Linked DNA regions of Homo sapiens: region 2 is linked to region 1. The links come from fine-mapping of genetic effects on gene expression. Tissue or cell type: prefrontal cortex. Region 1 holds a variant in brackets; the other region holds the start of a gene. All regions are shown on one strand. Distances are between the middles of the regions.

Region 1 (10,026 bases):
AATTGATGTAAAAGCCCATTAACCGCCCCCCTCAAAGTAAAACAACAGCAACAACAACAAAAGGTGTTTCGAATTAGTTTTTGAAACTAAAAGTATTTCAAGAAATTCACTCCATGAATGAGTCATGACATGGCATAGTGGGAAGAACAACTTCCTGGGGCCAAGAAAACCTGAGCTGAAAGTCAGTAGTGCCTGTGAGCAGCCCCTGGACCTGGGGCAACTCACTGACCTCTCTGAGCCCAGCTTCTTAGGGGCTTGTGAGCATCGTCCCCTGCCAGGGCCTCTGCACACCGCCTGGTCTGGAACAGGGACACCTTGGGTGCTCCTCCCTCCAAGCCTTCCCACCGCCCTGGTGCACAAGGCACCTACAGCTCTGGAGCTCTCAGCTACAGCTGAGGTGCTCTGGGCTCTCCTGCGGGGCCGAGGGGCTTGTGACGCTGGGCCTCTTCCTACAGTCACTCATATCCACGTGGAATGAGGTTTCCAATATCCATAGGCAAATATGATCCACCCACCTGCCTGCCTACCTTCTGAAGTCACCATTTCCCTGACATAATTGCATCTTACAGATCTTACAGCTGTTTCCTGTGGCCCACTTGATGGTTGGTGGCACCTTGGCATGTCCACCAGGTAGCACCTCATGCTGAACATCACAGCTGGCCCCAGGCAGGCCCTTCCCTTCCTCCTCACTCTGTCTACATCACTGGATCAGGGAAGCTGGCTTCATTCAACCCTTCCTTCTGTAGGTCCTGAAAGGTGAGGTGATGGCTGCTTCTCCACTCCCCACCCCTCTTTGTTGTGTAAGTGTGATTGGTCACACATCACAGAAAACTCATATAGCAGATATTTGCCACGTAACGTAGAATTTGAAAGCACATCTATGCCATAGGAAACGGCTAATTGCCTTGACTCAGGAGTGCCCCCAAGAGCCTGTCTCATTGGGAATCCTTCAGCTGTCCCAAGAGGAAACCATTGCGTTGACTTTTGTGACAGTCATGTACTTGGTTTTAATGATGTTTATCACTTACTTACAAGTTCTTAAGCACCAGAGTTGAGTTGGGCCTCTTTCTGCCCCTGGGATCACTGGGCATGTCCTCGTCAGTGCCTGATTTCTTTTGCTCAGTGTGTTTGGGGGATCCTTCTATTTCATTGCCTGGTCTTCGCTCATTTCCTATTGCAGTTCCGTGCATGGCCCATTACATGAACACAACCATTGTTTTCTCTCTTCCATTGTTTTCTCTCTTCTGCTATTGATGGACTCGGGGTTGCTTCTGATCTTTGGCTCTTAGGAAGGTTGCCCCATAAACATCCTCTTACCTGTCTCCAGGTGCACCTGTGCACAGTGCCTGCCAGAAAAGTACCTGGGGGTGGAACTGAGTTTCTTCACTTTGGCAGGTGCTGCAGACGGTCAGCTTCTCTTCTCACCAGCAGTGGGAGAGCCCCCTGTGCTCCAGCCCTCCCCAGAGCTGGGGATCATCAGACCTGAGAGCCACAGGTCCTCGTCCATGTGTAGCTGACCAGATGTGAGGATGCTCTGCCCATGTTTGGGGACAGCTTCTTTTCCTCTCCCCATCTGGCTCCCCGCTGCTCCCTGTGTGCCCACCCCACCTGCCCCGGTGTTTGGCTGGCCTCCTCTTCCTGCTGAGCCAGTGCCTCTAAGGAGCTGCCAGCAGTGGGGATGCGCCAGGCCTCCTCCAGTTCTCCAGGGCGCAGGCTTTCTGCTGCGACCATCCCGGGTCTCATCGAGCTCTGCACCCTGCACCCGCAGCGCTGACCTCACGGAGTCTGCCCCTCTGCTGCAGCTTGCCCTGGCCTCCTGCCTGCCTCTTTCTGATCCTGTCGTCTTTTGCCTCCTTGGCCTCCCTCCTGGCCTTGCTGCTGTCTCCCTTCCTCAGCTTGTCTTTTGGGGAATCTCTAACCTTCCAGAACTCCCTCTGCCCATATGGAGCCCCGATCTGGGCAGCACCACCCCTTTGCAAAACTCCCCTCCGTCCACACCTCCCTGGGGCTTGCAGGCACCATCCAAGGAACAGCAGGACTCACCATCTCAGTGAGCCAGGGCAGGGTAGCCCGGGTCTGAGGCAGCGTGGGATTGGGAGTCTGAGCCATGGCGTGGGCTATGGGACCTGGGCCAGGCAGCAAATGTCTCTAAGCTCTCCTGTTCTCATCCATAAAAGAACATAATTATAAGGATTCAGTGAGAGAATATCCACGGCAGTGTTTGGGAGTGATGTGCTACCTGGCTCAGAAGTCACTGTGAACATCATTGTCCCTTTCTGTAATGTAGCTTTCTGTCATGCATCTAGCTAGTATGTAAGGAGAACCTGGTGCACACAGGCTGTTACTTCACCTTATCTTGTTGTGGAGTGCTCGTAACTGCCCGCCAGGAGGTAGGCACCGTGTTCCTCTCTGCTTTACAGAAGAGGAAACCGAGGCCTAGGAAGGGGGCTGGCCTTGGCTGAGATGTCACCCCTGATGACAGGCAAAGCTGGGAATCTCATCTCTGTGGCCAGACTCCCAGCACCATCATGCACGGCTTTCTGGAGCAAAGGCAGAATGATGAGGAGATCACAGGCACGGAGGCAGGAGTGTGAAAGCATCAGAATATGCCACCCCAAAGGATGCCGCTTTGACATAAGGATTATTTTGAGCTGAAGGCAACTGAGAAACAGCCAGATGCAGAAAAAGCTCTCTACTCCCCATGCTCCCATCTGCCTCAAGGGAGGGCAGAAATTTATCTTTTTTTTTTTTTGAGACAGAGTCTCACTCTGTCACCCAGGCTGGAGTGCAGTGGAGCAATCTTGGCTCACTGCAATTTCAGCCTCCTCGGTTCAAGAGATCCTCATGCCTCAGATCCCCAAGTAGCTGGGATGACAAGCATGCACCACCGCACTCGGCTAATTTTTGTATTTTTAGTAGAGACGGGGTTTCGCCGTGTTGGCCAGGCTGGTCTTGAACTCCTGACTTCCTCCTTCAACACCTGCCTCGGCCTCCCAAAGTGCTGGGATTACAGGCATGAGCCACGGTGCCTGGCCCAGAAATTCATTTTTGTGAAGGATTCCTCCTCCCCTCTCCTGTACCAGAAAGAAGCCACAACTCATCACCGGAGATGGCACCAACCTGAATAGTCATAACCTTTAACAACCCTTATCTTCCATTATTTCCCCCGTATGTATCCCTTTCCACATTTGCCATCCCTAGAAGCTCAAAACATTTTTCCTTTGTCTTGTCATGTCTCCACAATTTTTTTATTTTTTTTGAAACAGAGTCTTGCTCTGTCACCCAGGCTGGAGTGCAGTGACACGATCTCGACTCACTGCAACCTCCGCCTCCCGGGTTCAAGTGATTCTCCAGCCTCAGCCTCCTGAGTAGCTGGGATTACAGGCATGTGCCACCATGCCCAGATAATTTTTGTATTTTTAGTAGAGATGGGGTTTCACCATGTTGGTCAGGCTTCTCTCAATCTCCTGACCTCGTGATCCTCCCGCCTTGGCCTCCCAAAGTGCTGGGATTACAGACATGAGCCACCATGCTGGCCACATCTCCACAATTTATGGCTCTTTGTTAAGATGTTACACAGGCTCCAAATGCTAACCACCTCAGAGAGTCACATTTCTTTGTGAATGCCCACGCATATGTATATAATTAAATCTGTTCTTTTCTCTTGTTAATTGCCT[T/A]TTGTCAGTTTAATTTGCAGGACCTCAGTCACTGAACATAAGAAGGTAGAAGACACATTTTTTTTTCTCCCTCACAAAGCCAGGACCCCTGAGGAGGGTCCCAGGCCCTGCTCATAGCACACCATGCCTAAGAGGGGACCAGCTCCAGGGAACAGCAGGGTAACCCCCCCCATGATATGGAATGCTGTGGGATGTGCCAGGGTGTGGCCCCCAGCCAGGGTGAGCAAGCGGGTCAGCTCCCTCTGGCCCTTGGAGGCCTCAGTATGCCTTGCAGCCCGAGTCCTGCCTGTCCCTCCTTGCAGCCCGAGTCCTGCCTGTCCCTCCTTGCAGCCCGAGTCCTGCCTGTCCCTCCTTGCAGCCCGAGTCCTGCCTGTCCCTCCTTGCAGCCCGAGTCCTGCCTGTCCCTCCTTGCAGCCCTGGCTGCAGAAAGGGTGAACCTGCCTTGAGGGCACTGCCTGCGCCTTCCCAGGGAGCTCCTCTGGCCTCCCCTCTCCATTCGCCCACTCCTCCGTGGTTACGTTTCGTGAAAACAGATGCTTTCCAGGAGAGTCACAGTTCATTAGGGAGATGGAGAGCAGGGATCCCAGGCTGCCACTGTGACCAGAATGGAGAGGCCTTCCCAGCACAGCAATCCCCTGGGCTGGTGCAGTGCCTGGCCCATCAGAGGGGCTGAATGGGCAGGGGCAGGGCAGACAGAGATTGCCCTACAGAGGTGACCTTTTGTTACTAGCTTGAGAGTTGCTTTCCTCTATCTCTTTAGATAAGTTATTTGGTAGATGCTGTTACTGATGTGTGCACTGTGGGCTTCAGCAAAGACAGAAACAGATCCCTGAGAACCCCTGGGAACAGCTGCAGTGGTGAGTGGCCACTCCCAGCAGTCCTCTCTCAGAGGACAGAGGGGCTGCACAGAGGAGGAAAGGAGGGGTGTGGGTGTTTCTCCCCACGCCTTTTGCTTCCAGAGAGAGGCCTCTGGGATGCAGGATCTCCCCAGGTGTTGCTTCTTCAGCTGGGAGCTGTTGACACCCACCAGGGACTGGAAGATCCCTGGACAAAACAAAGGTGAGAAAGAAGCCCTGGAAGGGCCCGGGGGAGAGGGATGTGCCAAGAGAGAAAGATGGGGTTTCCTGGGGGCACCTGGACCCGCCTGGTCCCTGTACTCTGGGCCCTGCCCTGGCCCGTCACTACTGACCTGCTCTCCCAAACGCCAATCACACCATCCACACAGAATCACTGGCTAAATGAGGTTCATGGTTCTGTGTGGACACTTCCACATCCACCTTTTCACTAAATTCAAACGGTGGCTCTTGCCTTTATTTTTTAAACAGCCTTACTGAGGTATAATTGACATAGAACAAGCCGTGCCTATCTGAAGTGTACAATTTGGTAGCTTTGACATAGGTAGACCCCCAGGAAACCATCACCATGGTCAAGATAGTGAGCGCATTCATCAGCCCAAGCATTATTTATGTTTTTAAACTAACATAAATTAAGTTTATCCTTAAACAGACTGGTATGGACACAAATTGACAGGAAATAGAAACCGAAGGCATGAGCCTCTCTTCTGTGGAGGGGATGGTTGGGGACGGTCACCACTTCCACGCATGCCTGTGGGGACTCCTGCAGGCAACCCACTCTGGTTTTCTGGAAAGCAGGAGAACATCCCAGAAATGCTACACAGAGTTCCTGAGGGCAGGTCTGCTGCCGGCTGAGGCAGAACCTGAATGTGGGCACGCCAGGCAGAGGGGATGGCCTGTCACCCTCTTCAGAAGGCGCTTCATGGTAGGAAGGTAAAGGGCAGCTCTCGGGTGTGGACTTAAAATCCTAGTCAGGCCTGAAGTAAAATTTGGGAAAGATTCCTGTCCTTCTGCCCATTCCCAAGGCAACTGCCTTCTCCTCAGCACCTACTGGCATAGGGCATGCCCAACTCGGTACCCACCGGGTGCAGGCCAGAAACTCACACGCTCAACTGAGTTGTCAGGATGGGGCCTTGGCTCGTGGGCGGGCCTTGATCATCTCTGGTTTCTCTTGCTGGGATTCATTTATTTACTTATTTATTGCCAAAAGCTGAATACCTGGATTCCTAAGTGCGATCTCCTAATTCTTACAGTTGGCAATGTAATGATTTTTTAAACACGTCAGGGGAGGCAGGTCTAAGGGCCCCCAAACTACAGGTGTCCGTCTCGAGGCATTTGCCCTATCGGGTGGCTCCAGATTGGCTCTTTCTTCACCCCCCAACAGATTCCCCTTGCATTTCACTTCATGTCAACGAACTTCCGCTGAGCAAGTGTGGCTGTCACGTCCAGGGCCCTGGGCTGGGGAAGCTGCAGAGGTGATTGGCCATCCCTGTCCGTGGGAAGACTTGCTAGCTGAAGTGCGCCACAGAAATGCATCCTAGTCCATGGGCTTGGGGAAGAGAAGGCAATTAGTCTACTGGGGTGCTCCCAGAAGGCTGCAGGAAGGAAGGAGCACTGGAGCTGAGAAAGATGATGAAGATCCACAGGTCAGCAGCGAGGAAGAAGAGGAGAGCTGCAGAGGTGGAGAGTGCAAGGTGTGTCCCAGGAGCGACAGGTGGTTTGCCTATGGGGCCAGACTGGGGACCCCAGGGATGCTGGGGTGCTGGGAGAAGAATGATTTGGAAAAAAGGAGATTCATGTTCTCCTGGTCTCTCTCCCTCTCTGAGGCCTCCTAAGGCATTGCCTCTGGGCCTCTTGGGGGTTCTGTGGAACTTGGATTATGGTCCTAGAAACCTAGAAATAAGAGTGGCCACAAAGATTCTGTCGCTGAGACCCATCCAATGCAGGACCCCCGTCTCCTACAGCACTAATTTCATCCACATCCCCTTCCCACCTCTCCATCAAATAGGCCAGATCCCCAGCGTCCCTTCTTATAGAAATGGGAGGTGGGGACTCTTGAGTTTTTCCCAGCGTAAGAATAAAAAAATGAGCTGCCAAAAGTTGCCTGGAATCAGAACTCGGGAGCGCACTGGAGCTGGGAGAGAAGAAATGGATACAGACAAGCTTCCTCTGGCCAGCTGTGCCTACACTCTATAAAAAAGTGTCAGATTCAATCACCCGGGTTTGGGGGTTGTTGGCGCCAAACATCTGGATCTTTGGACGGGCCCCTAAGACGCCAGGATGTTGCACTTCCCACCTGGAAGTCTGCCGTCATCTAAGTGCAGCCCTGACTCGGGAGAGGGCGAGCACCTGGCCAGGCCCGGCCCACTTCCTCCGAGGGGCCTCGGCCCCCTCTCCCTGCAGATGGACAGGACACACGTGTTTGCAGGACCTCTGGGGTGGGGGTGGGGAGGAGGCAGGGCCTGTCTAGCCTGTTCTGGGTCTTTCCTGGCTCTGAAGCAGCCCTGTGCCCACAACCAGAACTTACCGCGGGTGGCTGCACCCTGGGTTGACTCAGGCCGACCGGCCTGGCCCCTGGGAAGTGGACGCGATGCTACGTAGGCTTTGCTTATGAAGGAAGAAATCTACTTACATCCATCTGACTCTCTCCTCTCACCAAGAATAAGCCACATAGTTCATTCCAAGGGTCTGAATTCCCAGAGGTGCTCTGTGTGTGTGTGTAGGCTTACTACTTCAAAAGGAGGCAAAACGATGCCAGCCCTTCAAAATACTTTCCAGCAATACAGTGACCTGAATTAGAGCCTGTCATCCCCACTAATTTGCTAGTAAATAAAGATGTTTCTGACCATCTAAAGGAGGTGGCCAGGGAAAGCCAACCAATTTTTGTGTGACGTAATGCCCCGCCCTCTCCTGGCTGGTGTCAAGGGCACTGCCCAGGTGTAAGTGCAGTAGTTGGCAGGAAATGTCTTGAGAATATGAAGCTGCATCCTAGTTCCTCCGTCGGTTAAACGTGGAGTTACCATGTGCCCAGCAATCCCACTCCTGGGATATACCCGAGACAAATGAGAATAGACGTCCACCCAGAAACCTGTTCGTGAATGCTCACAGCAGCACTGTTCACAACAGCGAAAAGTGGAAGCAACCTAGACGCCACCCGATGATGAATGAAGAAATGAAATAGGGTCCATCCATATCATGCAGTGTTATTTGGCAGTAAGAAGGAACGAAGTACCAATACATCCTGCAGCATGAATGGGCCTTGAAAGCACGATGGCAAGTGAAGGAAGCCAGACACAGAATGATCAATATTGTATGATTCCAATTATGTAAAATGCCCAGAATAGGCAAATCCATAGAAATAAAAAACAATTCATAGTTTCCTAAGGCTGGGGGCAGAGAGGAATGAGGAGTGACTGCTAATGGCTATGAGGTTTGTTTTTGTAGTGATGGAATGTTCTCTAATTTGGTGATGGATGTACAATTCCGTGAATAGACTAAAAGCCACTGGATTGTGCACTTTCAATGGGTAAATTGAATGTTATGTGAATTATACCACAATAAAATTGTTCTTTTAAAAGGCAAAAAAGTTGCACTCTCAACAAATTCCAGGATTCAGACTTTTTAAATTCCCAGATAGTTGCCCACCCAATCAGCCCACATAGTTGAGGGGATTTTGTTGTTGTTGTTTTTGATACGGAGTCTCGCTCTGTCACCCAGGCTGGAGTGCAGTGGCACAGTCTCAGCTGACTGCAACCTCCGCCTCCCGGGTTCAAGGGACTCTCCTGCCTCAGCCTCCTGAGTAGCAGGGATTACAGATGCGTGCCACCACTCCCAGCTAATTTTTTGTATTTTTAGTAGAGACGGGGTTTCACCATGTTGGCCAGGGTGGTCTCAAGCTCCTGACCTTGTGATCCGTCCACCTCGGCCTCCCAAAGTGCTGGGATTACAGGTGTGAGCCACCGCGCCTGACTGAGAGGTTTTAATAGGGTTAAATAATGGACTTATGTTTTGTTGGTTGGCATCCAATATTTGGAATTGTGGCAAGATAGGACTGATCTCATCACCGTGCTCCCAGGGAGATAACAGTGGGATATGATTTTCCTTGACATAAAAGGCTGAGCTATGTTCTTACGATTTTAGAGGAAGGACTGAATGTTTATTACCCCAGAATCCAGTATTTGGACCCGTGAAACAAAGAATGATAGCTCATTTTGTTTTTATAGAGTCGGGGTATCACTCTGTTGTTCTTGCTGGAGTACATGGGTGCAATCGTGGCTCACTGCAACCTCGAAGTCCGGGGCTGAAATGATATTCCTGTCTCAGCCTGCCGATTAGCTGGGACTACAGTTGCATGCCACCATGCCTGACTCATTAAAAAAAAAATTGTAGAAATGTGGTCTTGCTATGTTGCCCAGGCTGCTCCCAAACTCCTGGCCTCAAGTGATCCTCCTGTCTCAGCCTCCCAGGTTGCTGGGACTATAGGCATAAGCCACTGCATGTGGTAGGATCTATGAAATTAAAAAAGTGATAGCTTGTTGTTTTGCTGTGTGGCCTTGGGCAAATGACCTAGCCTCTCCGGTTTGTAGTTTCTTCCTTTATAAAATGGGGATTAAAATGGTACCATTTCTTAGGGTTCTATGAGGATTAAATAGGTAAAATATTGAAACCACTAGCCCGGGCATGGTGGCTCATTCCTGTAATCCAAGCACTTTGGGAGGCTGAGGCGGGCAGATCGCCTGAGGTCAGGAGTTCGAGACCAGCCTGGCCAACATGGTAAAACCCCATCTCAACTAAAAATACAAAAAAAAAAAAAAAAAAAAATTAGCTGAGCATGGTGGCAGGCGCCTGTAATTCCAGCTACATGGGAGGCTGAGGCAGGAGAATTGCTTGAACCAGGGAGGCAGAGGTTGCAGTGAGCCGAGACCGCACCACTGCACTCCAGCTTGGGCAATGAGAATGAAACTCCGTCTCAAAAAAAAAAAAAAAAATTAAGCCACTAAAAATAATGTCCAGCGTATTACACAATGCATTTACTACTATTTGCTTTCTGCTTCTGGGCCTAAGGACTTGGTCTCCACTGCCCGATGTCTTCCCCTTAAACTTTCAAATTGCTCACCACCTCACTCTGATAGGGTCCCTGGTCACCTATCACAAGGCACGATGCCTTGCCTGACCACACGAGCTAAGAGGGCCACTCCATCCCACTACTGTTTGTCTTCACCTCACTGTTATGACCTGAAATCGCTATGTCTGTGTTTGCTTGTGTGTTTACTATTTTGCTTTTCCATGAGCATGCACACTGCCTTGTTCATGCATTGAAACTTGCCTGGGCCAGAGGCATTTGCTGAAGGAAAGAATGAATCAAAGAAGGGTGTCCCCTGTTCATGGAGCATGTCCCGGAGCTCTGTGCCCCCAACCTCAGAAGACTTAAGGAGGCCTAATCTGAGCAGTTAGAAGGACCTTCAGCAATTGTGTGTGTCCGGGGAGGCTCTCAG
Region 2 (10,026 bases), 99 kb before region 1:
CCATCGCCCTTCAGTTTTCACCAATGCACATCAGCATGTCCCTCCCCAGCACATTCCCCTTAAAATGTGTATTTTCATAGCAAACCACCATGGCGCATGTTTACCTATGTCACAGACCTGCACATCCTGCACATGTACCCTAGAACTTAAAATAAAAGTTGATAAAATGTCAAAAAAAAAAAAAAACCCAGAAAAACCTCCGAAGCTTGATAATAAACCAGCGTTGAAGTACAAAGTTAAATGTCTGGGTTAGAAACTTTCCAGGTTACATTAAGAGATGTCGCAAATAACTGTTTATATAACCCGCAGAAATCACTTTTCTGGGAACCTCAATGATCCAGAATGCAGATGAGAATGAAAGTTTTTTTGACAAAAGACATCATGAGCAGACTAAGAAGAACATACGAAGTCCATGCACTGAAACATATGTACTATTTACTGTTAGTTTACACTAAGTTCTAATTGTCTTATTAATGTCATATTAAAAGAGAGGGCTTTTGGAAAAAACTAGGAAGAGACATGACAGACAATATACAAAACACATTCCGACAGCACGGAGGTCCCCGGCTGCCCAGCCAGAAGACACACAAACTCCTGCTACACCAACTTGGAATGGCTTCCTCATCACAGCCTATCACAGCATCAGAAGAACCCCCGTGGCAGAAATGGCTGACACGCATGTCTCTCAAGTAAAATGCCGTCAGTAATTTCTGAGTACAGAATTAGTTCATCAGGTTCCGTTTTTACATCTATCTGCATGTGGTATACATAGCTTTACTTTGCTTCTTTTTGAATTGTTTAAAGGAAGAATTGCGTCCCTCAAGGGCTAATTTCAATTATTGTGAAATTGATTCATTTGAAACATTTGACTCCCCAGTGATGACAGATGAGAGAGGGCAGCCATCTCCTAAGCATGAGTCTTGGTTACATTCTCTGTATTGGGCTTCCTGTATAAACTCCACAGCTCCGGCTTAATACCTGGGTGATGGGTTGATCCATGCAGCAAACCACCATGGCACATGTTTACCTATGTAACAAACCTGCACATCCTGCACATGTACCCCAGAACTTAAAAGTTGATAGAATGTTAAAAAAAAAAAAAACCCACAAAAACCTCTGAAGCTCATAGTGAGGAAGCCTGGTCTGAGTCGGTTGGGGACCAAGCACAGGAGGCAGACTCTGGCTGGGCAGGTGAGCAGAGACCAGCTGCCCCCCAGTTTGGAATCCAGAACTGAGAGCATCGGTCACCATTGGGATTTGCCTGTCTGGCTTCTGGAAGCTTAGCGTCTCCAATGTGAGGCCAGGCCCCCAGGGAAGCGCACCAGGAAAAGGCCAGGCTACAATTACAGGTTTATTCTTCCAGCTGAAACTAAATCCAAGAGTTCACTTTTGCCATCCAGCAAGTCATCACTTGGTAACAGCGAGAAATTAATAACTGAGGAAGAAGAGTTAAGTTAGTGCGGGGAGGAAAGTGCAGCCAGGAAGAGGGGCCCATTTGTAGAAAGATGAAATTTCGTGGGTTAGATAATAGAGACTGTCAGTGAAAATTGCTGATTCTAGGTCCTTCCTGGTATCAACTCCAAGGGGGAGGGAAAATGAGAAGGTGGCAGAAGAGAATATAAATAAGGGGGCTGAAAACAGATTACAATGATCGGATGTCTGCTATACTGCTATACTTCATCTCCAAGCATGCTCCTCCAAAAAAAATTACTGTTTGTTCATGACATTGATCTGTAACCAGCAACCTTAAAAAAAAATCAGACTGTTTGACTCTAACCATATTTTCCCATCACTATGTTTTTAATTTTGTAAAATCTTTTACTTTATACCACACTACAGTAGTAAGTAATCTTGTAAGTGGTTTCTACTGTTGATTTTTCTCTCCATTAAAACAAAACAAAAGCACAAATATAAGGAAAGGGTATATAAATATGGTCTACTGATTATGCTGGCTGTATTGTTTTGAACTCCAAATCAGGGTAAAGGGTCTAGAAGGAATTGTTGTCTTTGATTTGTGGATTAGCATACAACAAACCTTATAGAGGTATAGCATTAAGCTACATTGAGCTGTAGACCTGGTTCACATTTTACAAAAGGAACAGAATGACATGGAAGCAGGACGGAGCTGTAAGGTGTCTCAGGCAGAGGTGAAGATGACAGTCATACAAGTGAATCCTATTGATGCCGATTTCCCGTAACTTCCATCTGACAACAGGCCACTCAGCTAAACTCAAAAAGAATATGTTTTCAGAAAAGGAGATTTGGGGGAATTTTATTTTTCATAAGAGAGATAATAAAAACCGGTGTTTTAAAAATCAGAAAACTTTGAAGAGAATCCCTGCTACTGGAAGAAATTTTATAAGGAAAGAAAGAGGCCCTCTAAATTAGAAGGGACTTCTATCCTCTGAGATCTGTGTGGGGACCCTGGAGGGGCTCTCAGCTCTCCAGAATCACACAGCATGACCCTAGAGAATGAAATGTTAACATGTGAGGACAAATGAAGGGGCTTTGACAAAGTCATCCTGAAAGTTGGACCACCCTGGGAAATGGCACTGCCGGGGCTAGGGCTCAGATGGACCAACTCTGGTGTGTGCCCCATTATCGAGAAGCACCATGAGTCAATTTTGGAAAATAGCAGACCACTGCTGGCTCCCATGCTCCACCGTCTGCTCTCCTGCCAGGCCACCCACCTGCCGGGCCACTCGCCCACTCTGGGCCTCAGTCCTGCACTTCAGTTTATCCCGCTCCTTCCCTCGGCAGGCACTCTTGGTGGCCTCACTCTCGGCCGCCTCTCCAGTCCAGTCTCCCTGAGGACTGTGCCAGGGCACTGGTTGGCCACCCTCAGCCACACAAGCTGCCTGGGTCCACAACTGCTATGGGGAGGTCTCTGCAGAGATGGGCCAGGAGCCAGGACAGAGCAGGCAGCAGCACAGTCCCCCAACGGGTGAGGAGCCAGCAGCCGGTGTCAGGCAGTTGGGGCCTTTATCGCCTGGGAGACCACTCAAGATCCCAGCACTCCAGGCCGATCCACCAGCTTCCCTCAGCCTCATTCCTGCACTGGTTCCCTTTAACTGGCAAAGGTTGCGCACCCACCAAGACAACAGGCAACCATTGCTCTGTGAATTGTCTAAGGTCTCCATAAGGGCTACATCTACACTTTAAAAGTGTCCTAAAAATCATAGAGAAAGAGGTAAACTTTTTGTATGTGGTCAGATTGCTGATAGGACTCAAAAACATAAAAAGTAAAAGGACCATAATACATTTACTGTCTGGTTTCTATATACAGTATTTTGAAATCCTGTACAACCAAAAGAAAACAAACAACCTCCCCACTTAACCATCAGTAGCAGCAGCCAAGCACCTGGGGTTAGGGTCTTACAAAATTCGGGTACCATTTTCACTCTTCCCAGAATTCGTGTTGGAATTTTCACTCTGAAGCTGATATTACAAATAAAACTACATTAAGAATAATTTCCAGCGTTTAGTTTACAGCGACGTGTCTTTGTTGATTACAGAGCCTTCTGAAAACAGTTAATTTAAATGTCTTGTGATCAGAGGCTCAGCCGACATTGGGAATTAAGTGCCAAGAGACCCAAATCTGAAGGCCACACATAGTGCCCTGCAACTTTCTCCGCTTGATTAAAATTCTTTGAGAAAGATAATTGCTACTTCTTAAAGTAAAACGGATGAGGAAATTCTCTAAGTGCGGTGTCAGCTGGAGTTGGGGGCTATGGGTAAAAGCAAAAATCAAGAGAAGCCAAAGGTGGGGAAAGTTAAGGCAATGGCTCTCGGCCTGGCCTGTGCCTCTAAAGTGCCCCAGCACCGGCCCACGACAGACGCGCACGCCAGACAGCCTGGGGGTGTCCTCCATCGGGTCGCGCTCCCGGACCCGGGTCTCTCGGCCCTCCTCAGCCCCAGCTCAGAGGCCTCGGAGGCCTCACCATCTTCTTTTATTCCTTTCTGCCCCGGGCAGGTAATCTCGCCGTTCTGCCAACGCTGTAGCCTCCCAGCCCACAGAGCGAGGAGGCAGAGAACCGTGCGCTTCTGCGGCCTCGCGACCCACCGCTTCCCAAAGGCCCAGGTCTGCGACCTTCCGGAGCGCGCGCCTTGTGTGTAAACACCGGGACCTCTGGGCTCCGGGGAGGTTTCGTCAGTAAGCGAGCACCTTCCTACTCCTCCTCGTTCTGCTGCTGAGCCGGGTATAAACTAAGCACGGAAGGCGCCCGCTGCGCTTTGCTCGGAGGACCCGCTTCCCCAGTCTTCCAACTGCAGCTCCGCCATCTGCCTCCCGGACTCTCTCTTGGCGCTCTCGGACCCTCCGACCCTCTCAAAGCCAGACTCGTCCACCCTGGAAATCATCGCAGGGGTTTTTGGGGAGGGAGCTCCCCAAAACCAGCGCGCTCCGAGTCAACGCGGCGCGCACCTCCACTCGCGATCAAAGCGGGCAGCGCAGGGACACGTCGGGGCCTCGCAGGGATGCGGGCGGCCCGGCCCCGCGCGGGCGCTGGACGGCCTCGGTTTCCCGGCTTCGAGGCTCACAGCGCCGAGCCCCGCCGCCTGCGATCCCGCCCGAGACGTCCCGCGAAAGGTGCGGTTTCTGGAGAGCCGCGCCCGGGCAGGGAGGCTCGGGTCTCGGCGGCGCCCGGCGGACCCCCGGCCCGCTGCTCCCTCGCCCCCGCCGCCCCGAGTCTGGCTGCCCAGCGCAGGGGCCCGCGGCCGTCGGGTGGGAGGGGCGCCCGCCTCACCTTGGTGAACTTGACCTCCAGGTTGCGGATGGGGCGCGGCAGGGCCGGCGGCTTCCTGTCCGGCTGCCCGTTTTCCACGGCCCCGTTAGCGGTGGCCATGGCTCCTCCGCGCTCCCTGGCCCGAGGCGCCCTAGTCTGCGGCGCACCGGCTCGGCCCGGACACTGCGCAGCCCGCTCCCGGGGTGGCAGCTCCCCGCCGCTTTATGCAGCGCCCCACGCCTCCCGCCCGAGGGGGCCGCCTAATTGGCTGCGGGACCGGAGGAAGGGAGGGCGGGCTGCGGGAGGGAGGAGAGGGGAGGGCGGCCGGCCCGCCTCACCCCGCCCCGCCCGCCGCCCCTGCGGGAGCCCGAGCGCCGGCGGCTCCACCCGCGTGCCGCGGACCGTCCCGGCGCCCGCGCCGCGCGCTCTCTCGCCCCGGAGGCTGCCTGTGGACGAGCTCCCCGAGGAGCCGCCGGGCCCCGGAAGTCGCAGGGCTGGGACACCCGACCCGGCAGGGAGCTGAGCCGCGGGGCCACGGCGCCCCGCTGCCTCCCCGAAGTCGGGCGGGCTCCCCGCGCGGCACATGCAGCCCACTCCCAGCCGCCGCACGGCGCGCTCGCCCGACTTCGGCCGGCTCGCGGCGCTCGGGAATGCGCGCTCTCCGCCGGGCCCTGCGCCGCGCCCGGGTCGGGGCTCCTGGCGGGGCCGCCCCGCGTCGCTGCGCACGTGCCCTGCTCTTGGGTCCAGCCGCCCGATCCCCGCTAGCAGGACAGACGCCCGCTGCGCCCCACCCTGCCCGAGCGCGGACAGCCGGCGGGCGCACCCCGGCCCAGCCGGCCTGGAGTCTCCCCGGGGCCCTGGGGCTTCGCCCGCGGTGGGGCAGAAGGCGAAAGCAAAGCGCCGGACCCGGGCGGCTCTCCGCCGAGGAGCCCTGGCGCCGCTGGGCCTCTGACCTTCGCAGGCGCACACCGCCTTCCATCCCAGAGCCCGGGGGGCAATTGATCTGATTTTTTAAATGCATAAATTATACCTCGATTAAAAAATGATAATTAAAAAAAAGCACATGAGACCTTTGCTGCTAATCGTTTTAAGAGTTTAAATTCTTGTCGCGCATTACTTCCCAGGAGGGGGAGGTAAGTCTAGCTCCTCTCCTTTTGCGATTTGGGAAACGCTCCATCAACTCCCAGGACTTGACCCAGGCCCCATCTGAGACACGGAAGCGGCTTCTGATGCATGCCATTCCTCAGGTCGCTGGAACAAAGACCGGAGGCACGGACTCCTGACAAAAGCTGTGCTTTAATCCTCAGATAGGCTCAGCCCCTTCAGTTCATCTCTTTCTGTAGGTAACCCCAAGTAATCAACAATGGGGAGGGGTCTCCTTATTTTCCTGTTTTGAGGCCTCCGTGTCCATCTCTCTGTCCCCTGGTGTCCTTCTGGATAGAGCTGGATAGAGGGGTAAGTTTTGAAGCTTTTGGAAACCCCACATCTGACCCTTACCCTGGGGTTGTGGAAAGGTCTTGTGCTGTTATGGCCTGGAGTGCACAGCTGAGGCCGGGGAAAGGGGATAATGGACCCTCGAGCGGGGCAGCCTTGACCGATATCGGCTGGCTAACACTGGCGAGTCTGAGCAATGCCAGCTCTTTCCTCAGCTGCTTCTGCAAATCCGGGGCTCCCTGCCCTCTTGGCTGGCCCCATGGCTCCCACTCAGATCTCCTGAAAACATCTGGGCAGATGTGCTATGCCACGGCCCCCGGCTGGGTGCTGAGCCCTAGCGTTTGGGTGCCTGAGCCCAAGAGGACCGTCAGGGAGTAGTGACAAACCCCTCCTGCATGGATGGAGGCCAGGGGCCCAAGGCCAGTGTGTGCAGCAGGCCCCAGGAAGCTGCAACTAGAGATGCTTTACAAACTGAACTCCCATCCTGAGACTTTATCGGGGGTCCTTGATGGTTGAAATTATGTCACTGCCAGGATTTTAAAAAAAAATCTGAAATAAAATTTATAGAGGAAACTGTGTTAATTAAATAATTGCTGGATTGATGGGGGAGGCAAATGGGGTTGAGCTTAGAACTCTGCTCCTTTAGGGAAGATAGTCGAGCCTGTTTGGTCAAAGATAGACAGTCACCACTTTGTTGGCTATGAAGTCAGGAATGAAAGCCACCTCACCTCACACTCAGACATCCTTGTGACCCGAGGCGTCTGGTCTCAGGAGCCAGTTGCAAAGATGCCGACTGGCTCACCTGCAGCTCCTCCGTTTGATACCCACGTGATCCTGGGAGCCTGAGATCAGACTGGAGCACTCAGCCATAGACTTTGTCACAGTAGGTGGCTCCCAGAGAGCAGGTCAGGAGGATGGGCCTAGCTCTGGGCTTGTCCAGACAAGCAGGCTCTACCTCTGCTCCCATCGGCAGGAGGGGTGGAGGCAAATGCGCTTCTCCCCATTTTACGGGTGAGTAAACAGAGGCGTGCAGACACTTGCCCCAGACATCACCATCGGTCGAGAAACTAAGGCCAGACTGTGTGAGAGTGGGTGGTGCAGTGCAGGGAGGAGGGGCTTCTCTGACATTCCTCTGACCTATTCTTTCAAGCAGGTGAGCACCTATGACCCAGGGTGGTCCCATGTCACTGGGGCTGCATAGGGCATAGTGAAGACACGAAGGGCTTTGAAGGTCAAAAATGGCGGGAGTATCCCTTTTCGTTGTGCCTTTCCTAGGAACCATATCTCCTAGCTGTGGCCTCAGAGGCAGGGACCACAGGGGCCGGGAAGGAGGAAGATTTATTTTTGCTCACAGTGGGTTGCTGGGTGTTTGGTTCAGTGATGAGGTGCCTGAGCATCGGAGATGGCAGAGGCCCAGCCCCTTCTGCTCACATCCCTGAACTGAGTCCCAGCTATGCACCCTTGGATGGGATATTGATCTCTCTGAACTTCAGTGTTCTTTTCCATAATCTCCTTCCCACTTACTTTACAGTGTTTGGGGAGGCTTAAGCAAGATAAGGCTCTCAAGAAGTGCTACCTACATACCAGCTCTTCATTTTCATATTCTTCCTGGAGACTGGTTCCTCTTTGCTGGCTTTTCTTCTTGGAAGTCAGCAAGTTCCCCCCACTTGTCTCTGGCTTGCGGGAGCCCCCCAAGTCAACAGTCCCTCTGCTCATTTCATTGTGAAAAAGTATTTATTCATTTTGTTTCCAGCTCTGTGGTGCTGCCGTTGTCTGCTGTTTGTCTTGTTGGTGCATCAAATGAGCTGAGTCCAAGACATGTCATGTTGCAGGCTTGTTTGCGGATGACCACTCAGTAAAAAGAAGCATGAATAAAAGACAAAGATAAAACAGAAGTCAGGTGGTCACCCCCTAAGTTCAACCTCATTCCATTTCTAAACCCATAATCATCTGTGGGTGATGTTGAGGTCTGAAGCAAACGTAGTGAATAATGATGATGACGTTGATGAACCCCCTACTGTGTTTCATGTTATTTCAGATCTGGTACCTGAGCCTTGTGGAGAGACGCCCAGGTCTGCTGAGTACCCCTTGTGTCCCCGCAGCCTCTGGCCAGCTGCAGAGCTGCCCCTCCCACCCAGTCTACTCACCTCCCTCAGTGTTGTGGAGTTGAGGCAGGGGCCTGAGTCTTGGGTGTGCCTTCTGAACCCTTCCTAGACAGCCAGGCCCCTGGGCTGAGGGTAGTTCTTTGATGTAGGGAAGCCCGGTCACCCCACTGTGCAGCACTCAGGCCAGTGCTTGGGTGACTCAGGGAGGCGACCTAACTTCAGGTTTTTTGGCTACAAAATGGGGGTGGCATGTGCCCCTGTGGTGAGGGAGGGCTGACTTCACTGTGAGCACCTCCTTGCTGGTATCAATGAAGTCAATTCCATGTTTCATGTGAGTCATTCGGTATCGCCTCAACCTGACTAGAATAGGCAACTACTTACCTTTGAAGCTCACCGTATATTAAGACCCATCAAATACTACAACATTGTTCTGTCCTCAAGGAACACACAAACAAATCTTTTCCCTGCGAGTTTCCATCAGTGATTGATGATATCGAGGCAGGAGCACCCCAGGTTGGAGAAAGAGGAGCTGATAACACCCAAACAAGGTGAAGAGAAAGGAGCTGCCAGCCCACCACACAGCTCCACCAGCTGCTTTCTCTCCAGCCCTGCCAGTCCTTTCTGGCCCTGGGAAAGGCCTTCACTACACAATGTTAGGCTGAGGCAAATCAGTCTTGGACCAGGCAGAAGCCAACGGAGAACTCATTACATAAAAGCAAAGAGACATCATGGTATTTGTGGGTCAGGCCCCAGTGAAGCCACACACACATGCACACACACATACACACATACACATGCATGCACACATGCACACACACACATGCACACACACACAGCCTGCCAGTTCACAGCTGCCAGAGATTTCCCCTTGGTCTGTCTTCCAGTGGATGAGAGTTGTGGCCCAGCCAGGAGAGAACATGGAGGGTAAGGTCGAGAGAGTTGGTTGAGTACCCAATAGTTCTCTCCTTTCTTGCCAGTGGAATCCCATGTTATCGAGGGTGGTAGTGGGCTTTGATAAACATATTTCCCAGCCTCTCTTGCAGAAGTATAAGCTGAAGTTTTTGGTTTGGGCTTCCAAAGAAGCTCTTAGGCATGGTGGCTTATGCCTGTAATCCCAGCACTTTGGGAGGTCGAAGTGGGAGGATCACTTGAGGCCAGGAGTTCAGGACCAAAGAAACTCTTTACATGGGACTGAGTCAGCTGAAAGGCTCTTCTTCCTTTCTGCTGCCTGGAACACAGACATGAGAGCTGGGTCTCCAGCAGCCATCATGTAACCATAATGCAATTCTGAAATGCAAGTTCCATGGTAAGGAAGTTGGAAGAGACACTTAGGAAGAACGTGGGTCCCTGATGGCCCTGGAACCAGCCCTTCATCCCTGGATATTTTTTCTTGGATTTTTTTTTCATGTGAGAAAAAGGAAAATCCCTATATTATTAAAGCCCACCATTTGGGTTTTCTGTTATATGTGGCCAACTTAATCCTAAGCAGCATAGCTGGCTGTTGGCCATCGCTATGACAAGAAGAGCAAAATTTTAACTCAAGTGGAATAATGATCTCATTTTTGTATAAACGGAGCAGCACAGACATAAAACTCTTATCACCATCTCTGTTATTTTGACCTTAATCAAATAACCTTGATGCGCTGTGCTCAGGTTTATAGTATGTTAAAAAACAAAGACAAAAACTAGCTCTGGGATGGAATAAATGGAGTAAGCTCACTGATTCATTGGATGATGAGGTCCTACTAGGGAAGAGAATCTCT

Alleles and levels. Positions count from the first base shown, and alleles are read on the strand shown. Sizes are in standard deviations (SD) of each study's normalised expression.
For the expression in prefrontal cortex of the gene that starts at base 4,921 in region 2, T is the high allele of the variant in region 1 and A is the other (small effect, 0.36 SD a copy in CommonMind).

Evidence for each region. PIP is the estimated chance that this variant, and not a neighbour inherited with it, causes the effect.
Region 2: it holds the start of ALDH1A3, and the variant in region 1 is the best candidate, but not a certain one, in a credible set for the expression of ALDH1A3 in prefrontal cortex (CommonMind, PIP 0.86).

The regions. Positions count from the first base shown.
Region 1 is chr15:100,775,989-100,786,014 of GRCh38, reverse strand. All of the region lies in intron 2 of LOC105371024 (a long non-coding RNA gene), which reads right to left. LOC440313 (protein enabled homolog) reads left to right here and starts at 1,530. Exons shown (of 1, transcript XR_001751715.2): 1 at 1,530-2,054. RefSeq lists an enhancer at 3,316-3,945. The variant T/A (reference allele first, on the strand shown) is at 3,678.
Region 2 is chr15:100,874,726-100,884,751 of GRCh38, reverse strand. It overlaps ALDH1A3 (aldehyde dehydrogenase 1 family member A3), which reads right to left and starts at 4,921. Exons shown (of 13, transcript NM_000693.4): 1 at 4,746-4,921. The coding sequence starts at 4,844. It overlaps LOC124903575 (collagen alpha-1(I) chain-like), which reads left to right and starts at 4,949. Exons shown (of 1, transcript XM_047433433.1): 1 at 4,949-5,806. The coding sequence starts at 4,949. The coding sequence ends at 5,731. It overlaps GCAWKR (gastric cancer associated WDR5 and KAT2A binding lncRNA), which reads right to left. Exons shown (of 4, transcript NR_160703.1): 4 at 7,874-10,026. RefSeq lists an enhancer at 3,875-4,389 and a silencer at 4,881-5,000.